2 linked regions of the Homo sapiens genome follow. The protein of the gene in region 1 interacts with the protein of each later gene in a pairwise test. Each region holds a gene or a part of one and is shown in the gene's direction. Other genes may lie near its edges.

Region 1 (4,764 bases):
GCCTGGGGTCTCATGCAGTTGCTCTAAGACACCAGTTGGGGCTAGAATCATCTGAAGGCTCACTTGGGCTGGATACACACGTTGGCCTCTTCACTCATGTGCCTGGGCCTCGGAGGGGATGGAACCGCCAGGGACTGGCAGGGCATATCTACCCATCTAACATTTCAGTGGGTCTGATTCTACCACCACCACTACCCTCCCCTTTCCTGCCCCAGTAGGCTCTGAAACCCCCAACATGCCTCTTAACAAGACTGAAGTACCTTATGTTTGAAAGGATTGATGCTGGAAGGACAGGGCTGAGGTGCAGAAGGCCTGGAGCCAGGTGTTCAGGGGAGAGTGTTTGTCCTTCTGCTTCAAATCACTGGACAACCTTCAGACTCTGAGCATAGCCAGCTGCTACTTGGCACCCCTGGGTTCAACAAAGTCCAGCAGAGTTCTCTTCCAAGGACTTTTAAAAAAGCATTCATGTGTACTGCACATCTCTAGTGTAGTAATCACCACCACGTTTATATTTAGTAGCAACCCTTCTTCCAGACTAGTGAGGCGTGAACTTGGGAAGTGCTGTTGTAACTTCATTCACTCACAAAGACTTAGCATCGACAATGTGCCAGGCACTGTGCTAGGTATTCATGAGACAACAGCAGGGAGCTGTTTTCTGGGAGCTCTTTGAAGGCATCCCATGAAGAGTGGGAACAATTTGTGTTGGAATCCTTCAGTTGGGCAAGGGACTGGCTCTAGCAGGACTGGATTTAGGTAATATTTTAGGAAACAGCTCACTCTCCTAAAATCTGTGCTTTTTGTTTCAGGCTGTCTCTTCTGTGTTCCCTTACTCTCTAATCTGGCAATTGCTGACTTGGAAATTAAGACCTATCTCAAATACCACACGTCCGCCGTCCCTTCTTAGATCTTCCACCAGTTACTTACTACCCTCAAGCCCATTTCCTCACCATTTAATTGGGATGAGGATTACTGGTGGTTAAAACTGTAGAGAGTGACTCTTACATAGAATACGGAATCTTACATAGAATATGCTGGTGAACTAGCAAAACCGACAAACAGAAATTTAGAAAGCATTTTGATAACTTTAGTATCCAGATGCTAAGAAGTCCAATCTTAGTGACTAACATTATATAACCTTAAATTTTTAAAGTTCATTGTATGTTTGGAATGTAATACTTAAGGTAAGGACTAGTCTGACTACAGGTGCTTATTAAACATGTACAACTGTACGGCGGGGACAAGATTTGGGCAACAAGTAGCTCCCACAGTGGCATCAGAGATACTGGCTTAGTGCAGAGCAGAAAACTGACAAAAACTCTGGTTAAGGCATGGTAGGGAACTGTTAACACAGTTATCTAGAAGCAAGCTGTAAATTGAGTTTCCAAATCAAAAATTTCTATATGTTAAACTTTTGGGATATGCCCTGATGTTTTTCTTTAGAAAGATATTTTGTTGGTCATGCTGAGGATATTTGTGTAGGATTGTTCACTGTTAACTTTCTTTAGAGTGGAAAAGATTCAGAGGATTTTCTTTATACAGTCTGTAAGTCCTAAATATATATTTTATATAAAATTGGAAGAAATCAGTACTTTCATTTTCAGAGTAATTGAGGCACATCTGAAATTTTGAGTCAGCTGTGTGTGTGACCATCCGTACAGCCCATGACCGACACACCAGAATGTCCTTGAAGGGTCCCAACTGGAGTCCTTGCAAAAGACTACACTCTAAACAGCTGCCATCCAGGAACTGCAATCCAGACCCAAATTGAGGTTTCCGAAGTTTGACAGGTATCCTGTGAATCCATGTAATAAATATTTTTGTCTTCTCCACAGAATGTGAATGGCATAAAGTATCACGCTAAGAATGGTCACAGAACACAGATTCGTGTCCGCAAACCATTCAAGTGTCGCTGTGGGAAGAGTTACAAGACAGCTCAGGGCCTGCGGCACCACACAATCAATTTCCATCCCCCGGTGTCGGCTGAGATTATCAGGAAGATGCAGCAATAACATGCTGGTCATAACTGTGCCAAGAAATCCTCACCAGCAGTTGCTGATTTTGAAAACAGCCACCTTTTTTCAGGGGAAGCATTCAGCAACCCTTTAAAGAAAAAGAATTAAATGCATGCTTTAAATTTTTTCTGTAATTTTGGAATGATGTATCTTTGTAGAGTTAATGATTTTGTACATTTGCACATGTAATCATCATACCCATTTTCATTACTTTGATATAAGGTGCTAAACAAAAAAAGCTCTAGGTTCTTCAGCACATTTCCCCCAAAACAAAATAAAATTGAGGGCATGTTGCATATTGTTGAATTGTATTGCGGTGGTATCAACCTGGGGGGAGGAGGGGCTGGCACTGAGATTTTTTTTTCAAGATTGTAATGTGATTGAAGTTTTCAACACATCAACTCACATATGTTCAAAACCAAAATAATACCTTCATTATCAAACTGGTTACCATGCCTTACATAATGGAGTTAGTATTTGTGAGTAGAAAGACTTTAGGTAATGGAAATATAAATAAGAAAGAATGTTTAACATAATATGCTAAAAATATTTTCATATTTAAATAACATACGTAAAGGTGTGCTTTCTGTGTTTTATATTATCTTGCAAATCCTTTTGCCCTTTAAAAAGCTGAAAATCTTGCCATCTGACTTACTAGTCATTTTAGTGTTATAAATGGCATTTTGTACAAAATAGTCTATTCAGTTCGTTCATTCATTTAACACACATTGATTGAGTGCCTGCTGGGTACAAGGGATTCAATTTATGCCTATTGATATCTGCGGACCAAGATACCCATTTAGTGAAATACTTTTTTCCCTGAAATCTGTTAGAAAAGACTTTGAAATACTTCAGTGCAAAGTGTGTGTGTGTGAAGTTTAGTTATATCTTCATCTTCAGATGAAGTTTTAAAGCACTTTGTAGTTCTCTATTGCCAACAATTTAATGTTTATGTGTTGCCAATTCTTGCAACCACTGCCCTACCAAACCTGTGGGTTGCAAATCAGAACTAAAATTCTAAGCACGTTTCAAAGATGAACACTTTTGTTAAGACCCCTATTGCCTCTTCTTCATGCTCATTTTTTACTTTTTTTAAAAGGTACTTTTCTCATCACATTGTAGAGAGGTCTGCATTCTCATTGGAAATGTCTGTTTAGCTTTATAAAACAAACACTTTGCTGAAATAGGAAAATGAGCCTTATTGACAATTAAGTGCTTCTTGCAGCAGGTGGTCAAAGAAAAGCATGACTAATACGACCTATTAGAGTAATCTACATCTGGACCATTCCTTAAGTTTTTCCTCACCGACAGTACCATCATGCCTTGAGTGTTCTTTTCTCCCAAGTGCTATTCCTTAAACACGAGAGTTTACCAGTTGCCTAATAATGCAATAAAAAATGCTTTGAGATAGCTAACTGCCCATAAAACAAACTCAAATTGCTTATAAAGTTTCTTCCCATGTTCCCATTTGATGAAAAGTCTTACATCACATATAACTGGGAAGCAGGGGTCCCTCCTCAATTTTCAGACATTTTGAAAGGATGACAGTTCTGTTTGTTAGATGAGTAAACCTCTATATTCATAAGTTCTAAAATCCTTCATTATGAGGGATTCAAAGTATTTATAAAAACACTGCCCTCTAAAAATTTCCTCAGATCTGAAGTATGGTCTTGGTCCTGAATATACAGTGTTATCCTATGTTTAAAAGGGTGATCCAGACATGAGACGCAACTAGTTGGTGCATAAGAAGGCCCCACTTGGCTATTTCATATCTACCTACAATTGACCAAAAAAAATTTTTTAGGCCAGCAATTATTATTTAGCTTCGCTCTTTCTAGTGCAAGAAACTGCAGGCTGGATCAGTAGTTCAACAGCTAAACAGTCATAAAATAGTCATTGTGCATGTTAAATTTCTTTCAATGCTTTCAAAGATAAATTCCAATTTCTATTTACTTATTCATTGTGACAGTATTACTAAACAGGTAAGGATGGGAATATTTTGTTATACTGTGTATAGTGAATGTATTGTACTGTGTCTGTGAAAACTGTGCTTTAAATTATATTTTCATATGTTTTGTTGGGGACAGAGCACATTAAGTCTGAAAGCAACAGAGGTTTGTTTTAGAACTGAAGGCAATTTAATCAAAATTCCTGTCAAGAAAAGCTGCTTATAAATGTAAATGAAATCACATTTAAAATAAACTGCCTCTGACCCAAAAATAAATATGGCTCTTTATTTTCCTTAGTGTCCATTATGAAAACCAGTATCAAGTTTACCATGGAAATTAATATATCCATTCAGTTCCTCATTCTAAGGCTGTTCAGTTGATGCATGTAGACTTTATTCCCTTACATTTTTGCTTAGATTAGATTAGGCTGTATTACTTTTCTGTCAATAACAAATTAAGCTTGGACTTACTTACTTAAACTATTTTAAAATAAGTTCTAGGCTAGTAAGATGAACAGTGTCTACTACTATAATAAATATTCCAAGGATACTTTTGGATTAACATGGTCCATAATTATTAACTCCAACAAAAATGCTCCCATTGTTGAACATATTTTACCTAAGTATATAACCTATCTGGAAGCTGAAAGTCTCCAAAGCTATTGCTTCCTAGGACTGCTGTGTCCTAACAGCTGGCATATGAATGCCTCATACTGGTTTGCCCTAGACTCAAAAAACTTTTTAAAGGATTCTAACAATATACAAACTCTGCTTCCACAAACAAATACAAGTGACGACATGATA
Region 2 (7,045 bases), on another chromosome or scaffold:
GCTACTTGAAAGATGGTAGAGAAATTACGTGAAGGGTGTGGCCAGTATGCTTAATGCTCAGGCCACGTGGCTGTTGGCATCTAACAGTGTATGGCACCCATCACTTCAATGAGACTTGCACAGGAACTGACAGATCACCTCTTTGGTGAATCCACAAATATAGTCACAAAATATTTGTGTATTCTTTCTCCTGTTTCAGGCCGTCACTATGGGGCTGTCAGTTGTGAAGGTTGCAAAGGTTTCTTCAAAAGGAGTGTGAGGAAAAATTTGACCTACAGCTGCCGGAGCAACCAAGACTGCATCATCAATAAACATCACCGGAACCGCTGTCAGTTTTGCCGGCTGAAAAAATGCTTAGAGATGGGCATGAAAATGGAATGTGAGTAACAATATTTAAAAACCACATGAGTTAATGTGGAGGGAGACAGTAAATGAGTCCATTAAATAAGGTTTCTATACCTGGCCTTAAAATACTTTAAGAAAAAAATATGCACTCAGGCTTCATTTTGGTTTACCTCATGGGTCAGCCAGGTGATTGAGAGCCAACGCTGCAGGGGTTGGTCTCTTCCTGCTGTGTGTGTGGAAAGCCTTATTACAGATGCATCAGGAGGCAGCTTAGTGGAGTGGGTTGAACACAGGCTTTGGAGGAAAGCTGATACCAAATCTACCTCCAGGTGTGCCACTAAGAGAGAGCTATGATGCCTGAGGATACACGTAGCCTCTCAGCCACAGGGTCCTCATCTGTGATCTACTTAATCACCTTACTTATATATTGCTCCTGAGGATTACATGAGCCTACTCCCTGTCTTCTTAGCCCCTCTACTTTCTTTTGGGATAAGGTCCTTTGCCAAGCCTCTGTGTAGCTGGGATTCTAAAGAGAAAGCTATTGCTCCTGGATGTGTGGGGCAGCCAGGGAAGGTCTCAGGCCCCTCCTTTCCACTCCCATAGACAGAATTTTGGGGGTTTTCAGGGACCAGTCAGCATGGAGGTCACTTCCCTAGCTAGTGGTGAAAACATGAAGACCAGGACTCAAGATGGGCAGCACAAAGAAATCCAAGGAGAGTGGAGTTAGGCTTAAGCCACAGTAGGAAAATGGAGCTTAGCAGAGCAAGGCATGCAACTTGCATGCAACTTGCATGGCAAGGCTGGTGGCCGAGGACCCAGGACTGCAGGCTTCCGCTGAGTATGCTGCATGGTTCTGTCATCTTTTGCATAGTTTTCTAGGAACTCTGAAAACCAATATATTTCAGTATTGCTGTTGACGTTTCTGGGAACAGGAATCCACAAAATTCACTGGAGAATAAATGGAAATGTATTTTTTGAGAAATTAGAAATATCAACCTAATTTCTGCCTGGTGTGATGTTTTTATTTTATCTAATGATACTGCTCTTTGCCCAAAGTGAATAAATAAATCACTGACTTGGTGTGGGACTGGCCCACATTGCCAAGCTGTCCTTTTTCTCAATGATGAATATTTTTACTCAGAGCAATGACTGAAATCAGTTTTCTTGTGAACACAGCTGTAGCTGCAAACACAATATTCAACTGGATAGCAGTTTGATTAGTAGCATATCTGAATATTAGTCCCTGACCTTCATCAGTTTTGTCTTTAAAAAGCTTTCATTTTCTTCAGTTGCTTCTAACATGCATATCTGCTCTTACATTAGACTGCTAAAAGGAGAGTTTGCTAGCATAATATAAAATTGACACCCATTAAACAGTTTGCAGAAGCTATTCAGACTTGAGTTGGAAATTAGAAGGGTTCCTCTACAAATTGTGGCATAGGAAATGCATTCTATTAAGGGCCCACTTGAAGGTGGGCATTTCTTTTTTCTTTTTCTTTCTTTTTTTTTTTTTTTTTTTTTTGAGGCAGAGTCTTGCTCTGTTGCCCAGGTTGGAGTGCAGTGGTGCCGCGTCTTGGCTCACTGCAGCCTCCGCCTCCCAGGTTCAAGCAATTCTCCCTGCCTCAGCCTCCCAAGTAGCTGGGATTACAGGTGCCTGCCACCACACCTGGCTAATTTTTGTGTTTTTAATAGAGGCCGGGTTTTGCCATGTTGGGCAAGTGATCCACCCATCTCGGCTTCCCAAAGTGCTGGGATTACAGACGTGAGCCACCACCCCCGGCCCAAAGATGGGCATTTTTTTATCCTTGAAAGAGTCTATTTTGTTAGCAGCATGAAGTAAAAACCAGCTGGGCACGGTGGCTTATGCCTGTAATTCCAGCACTTTGGCAGGCTGGGGCGAGTGGTTTGCTTGAGCCCAGGATGAGTCCAGACTGGGCAACATAATGAGGCTTCATCTCTACAAAAAATAATAAAATAATAACATAAAATAATAGCATAAAATTAATAAAATGGCCCAGAAGGCTCATGGGTGCTTCCATAGGCCACATAGGTGCTGTGCTGCAGTTTTTTTTAGCAGGGAATACCACCCATCGTGAGGTCTTTTTTATGCCTCTAGATTTGACATGGCATGGTTTGGCTTTATTCCTTCTCTCTGGCCGAAAAGTCCACTGTGAAAGCTGAGCTAGATGAACCTAGCACCAGAGTCATCCTCCCTGCAGTAATGGATTTGGGGTTTTCCCTTGTGGTTTTTATTGATTGGAATTGTTTCTCTAAACACAAATATTTATGTTGTGATTTAAGCTGTGCAGAGTGAACGGAAGCCCTTCGATGTGCAACGGGAGAAACCAAGCAATTGTGCTGCTTCAACTGAGAAAATCTATATCCGGAAAGACCTGAGAAGTCCCCTGATAGCTACTCCCACGTTTGTGGCAGACAAAGATGGAGCAAGGTCAGTCCCTTGTTCTCACTGCAATCAGCCTTTGCAGCTGATGGAGGAGGCACAGACGTGTCCCACAGCAGGCACTGTTGTGGCTTCCCACCCATCTGCCATAGCCTCCAGCGTTGTGTTGCCTAATTCTGCCCCTTCTGGAGCTGCTCAGTCACACCTCTGGACAGGCCTGAGGATGCCTGATTTATGAAGGGGTCAGAAATTCTCCTAGCCTTGAATTCAGATTATGTCCTGCAATTTAGGCATCATTCATACGGAAGACAATTATTTTATGATTCAAGATTGGGGCATTTCTGCAGTACACACAAAAGGCCCAAGGTGAGATAAGGTCTCAGTGCTACAGTTAATTTGTATATTCTTTTTAATATAATCTATTGAACTTACTTTAAAAGGAACGGAAAGAGGGGAAAACAAGCAATCCAAAATGTATCAGAGAGAGAGCTGGAGTTGAGGATGCCTTGCTGATTTTCTGAAAATCAAGTTAACTTTTCTAGGCAGAATGGCCACAGTCTGCAGTCATCCTGGAAAGCCCTGGGGGATGCATCTGCATTTCATCCTGTCTCAAGCTGTAAACCTGACTTTATGTATATCTCATTGCAGAGAGACAGGGGTGGGGGTTCTGCTTAGTCACTAAGCGGCTGAGTCTACTTAGAGCTTTTCTACTATTCAGACAGCTTCACAAATGTGGAAGGACAGGTAAATGCAGCATGATCATACTGTGCATAAAATGTTGGAAGCTACTCTGAGTTTCTTTATGTCTTAAATAGACAAACAGGTCTTCTTGATCCAGGGATGCTTGTGAACATCCAGCAGCCTTTGATACGTGAGGATGGTACAGTTCTCCTGGCCACGGATTCTAAGGTGACGTTCTCTACTCATGCTCTCTCTCATCCTTTATGTTGACATTGCAGGCTGCTTCTCTAACTGTGTGCACCACTTTCTTCCTGGCCTTCAGAGACCACATCAAAAGCATGACCTATGTCTCGGTCTCCTTATTGTTGTGATAGCTATCTTGTGATTTGTTTTAGAGATGCTGATGGCTTCTCAGATCAGAGCTGGCTGGTCATAATCACTGTAACATGTCAGTCTAGATGTCAATTTGGTGGACATTCAGTGGTTCTCTTTTCTGTTATAGTTTTCTTTTTCTCTTATACACATTGGCAAACTACTAGCCAAGGAAAGAAATACTTATCAGATGGCCTTTTTGCAAAAGCCCCGGGTTCCTTTTTATTAGATGATCTTCAGGAGGAAGCTCAGCCAGGAATCTATCAGTTCCAAAACTTTGCTAGAGCAGATCAGTCATAGGGATTTAACTTGTGGACAGAGATGTTCGTCAGTCCAAAAGGGGGAGACTTGCTGGCTCCTGTGAAGATAACCAAGGAGGGGGATTTTTTCCAGGCCAGGGAACTCACTGTTTGTCTCATCCTGGTGCTCCTGATGTAAACCAAGTAATGAGGAAGTAGTAGCAGCAAGCCACAACTCTAAGAGGGTGACTTGGTAATTGAGAACACTGGCATTGCTGCAACCATTAGAACCAGAGCAAGGCCTGCAGGCTTCCTCCTCATCTGTTCACAGTCTCATTCATGGGTGTACTCAGGGCATTACAGGGCATCCTCTTTTGGGAAAGAGAAGACAAAATTTAGAGCCCTTGCCTGTCATGGAGAGCTGCCCTGCATGCCTTGGTCCTCAGGCTGGGCCTTGCACCTTCTGTCTTTGGGCAGGGGCCACATGCATGATGGGAGCTGATGGATCACGCATCGTGGGCTTAGCTTATCAGCAGCACACATTCTAGAACAGTGGCTCTGACTGCATGGTCAAATGCAGAGAAAGCGTAAGCCTGAAAGTAAGGCCCAGATAACCTTAAAAACAGATTACCAAGGGATTCACAGCAACCATTCTATTGGGCCATCCACACACAGACTGGGAATGAGAACCAAGACTCCAGAACTGGCTAGAACTGGGTTCAGAGTCTGACAGTGCTCTTCGTAGCCACATGCTTCTTTCCTGCACTTGTAAATTTCTTGGTACACAGTGAGCATTCAATAAATGTTAATGGTTAGGAATTAGTTATTGTCACTTTGGAGGAGAATGACCACAAAGCTGTATGGTATTTCAGGAATCAAGAGAAAGAGCTTCAGAGGCAGACTGTGTCCTACCCCATTCCTTCCTGTGTACAATGGAAACAACAATACCCCCCACAGAAGTTTGATACGAATAATAAAACATATGCAAAGCACCCACAGGAAGCTACTTTCAGAAACTGTTTTCCAATTTTACTTTGAAGTAATTATACATTTAAAATAATTTACTATGAAGGAAGTACAGTGCTATTACAGAGCTCCCACATAGCCTTCGCCCAGGTCCTCCCAGTGGTTATGTCATACATACCTACGGTACAGTATCACAACGAGGACATTGGCTTTGGTACAAACCATATGTATTGTTCTGTCTTTTTTATATTTCACTCTTCTTCAACTTCATTTCCTTCAACATACCTTTCTGTTAATGAGGATCTTACAGTAGCTGCACAGTATTCTATGTGTCTGTTGTGATTTAATCATTTCTGTTTATGACCTTTTCTACTGATTCTAGTTTTTCATTTTGTAATCAAGACATAACCTTGTGTGTACATATCTTGGTTTGAGTATATCTCTGGCTTTCTTTTCTTTTTCTTTTTCTTTTTTTTTTTGAGACAGGGTCTTGCTCTGTTGCCCAGGCTGGAGTACAGTGGTATGATCTTGGCTCATTGCAACCTGCACCTCCCAGGCTCAAGCAATCTTCTTACCTCAGCCTTCCGAGTAGCTGGGACTGTAGGTGCACAGCACCACGCCTGGCTAATTTTTCGTATTTTTTTTGTAGAGACGGTGTTTCACCATGTTGCCCAGTCTGGTCTTGAACTCCTGGACTCAAGCAATTCACCCACCTTAGTCCCTGCAGAGTGCTGAGATTACAGGCGTGAGCCACTACCCCTGGCTTTCTTTTTTAATTGAAATATAATTCACATGCCATAAAACTCACCCTTTTAGTGTATAATGTAGTGGTTTTTGGTATATTTACAAGGTTGTACAAACCATCCCCACTATCTAGTTTTAGAATATTTTCGTCACCTCAGAATAAACCCCAAACCCTATTATGTAGTCACTCCTCCTTTCCCCCTCTTCTCAAACCCTACCAACCACTAATCTGCTTTCTGACTCTATGGTTTTGTCAACTCTGTACATTTCATATAAAGGAAATCATACAATATATGGTCTTTTGTGGCTGGCTTCTTTCACTTAGCATGATGTTTCTAAGGGTCATCATGATATAGCATGTATCAGTACTTCATTCCTTTTTATTGCCAAATAATGCACCTCTGTTTTTTTTTAAAGACAAGAGTTTCGCTCTTGTTTCCTTGGCTAGAGTGCAGTGGTGCCACCTCGGCTCACTGCAACTTCTGCCTGCTGAGTTCAAGCAATTCTCCTGCCTCAGCCTCCCGAGTAGCTGGGATTACAGGCATGTGCCACCATACCCAGCTAATTTTGTGTGTTTTGTTTTGAGATGGAGTCTCGCTCTGTCGCCCAGGCTGGAGTGCAATCGTGCGATCTCGGCTTACTGCAGCCTCCGCCTCCCGAGTTCAAGCGATTCTCCTGCCTCAGCCTCCTGAGTAGCTGGGATTGCAGGTGCGTGCCACCACACCCAGCTAATTTTTGTATTTTTAGTAGAGATAGGGTTTCACCATGTTGGTCAGGCTGGTCTTAAACTCCTGACCTCACGATCCGCCCGCCTCGGCCTCCCAAAGTGCTGGGATTACAGGCGTGAGCCACCGCTCCTGGCCAATTTTGTGTTTTTAGTAGAGATGAGGTTTCACCATGTTGGGCAGGCTGGTCTCGAACTCCTGACCTTAGGTGATCTGCCTGCCTCGGCCTCCCAAAGTGCTGGGATTATAGGCGTGAGCCACCACGCCCAGCCTAATAATACACCTTTGTATGGCTATACCACATTTTATTTATCCATTAGTCAATTGATGGACATTTGTGTTGTACCACTTTACATTCTCACCAACTGTGTAGGAAGGTTCTCATTTCTCCACATCCTTACCAACACTTGTTATTATCCATCTTTTTGATTGTAGCCATCCCAGTGGATGTGAAGTGGTATGTCATTGTGATTTTGATTTGCATTTCTCATGATGTTGAGCATCTCTTCATATGCTTATGGGCTGTTTATATATCTTCTTTGGAGAGAAGTCTATTATCTTTGGGGTTTTGT

The links.
Region 2: the proteins of JAZF1 (region 1) and NR2C2 interact in binary tests that used the Homo sapiens proteins (3 or more experiments, as listed by UniProt).

Annotation. Positions count from the first base shown.
Region 1 is NC_000007.14:27,830,045-27,834,808, reverse strand, and holds the end of JAZF1 (juxtaposed with another zinc finger protein 1), read left to right. Parts: intron 1-1,832; coding exon 1,833-2,009; 3' UTR 2,010-4,232; downstream 4,233-4,764. UniProt on the Homo sapiens protein: Acts as a transcriptional corepressor of orphan nuclear receptor NR2C2. Inhibits expression of the gluconeogenesis enzyme PCK2 through inhibition of NR2C2 activity.
Region 2 is NC_000003.12:15,020,554-15,027,598, forward strand, and holds part of NR2C2 (nuclear receptor subfamily 2 group C member 2), read left to right. Parts: intron 1-199; coding exon 200-379; intron 380-2,646; coding exon 2,647-2,794; intron 2,795-3,561; coding exon 3,562-3,655; intron 3,656-7,045. UniProt on the Homo sapiens protein: Orphan nuclear receptor that can act as a repressor or activator of transcription.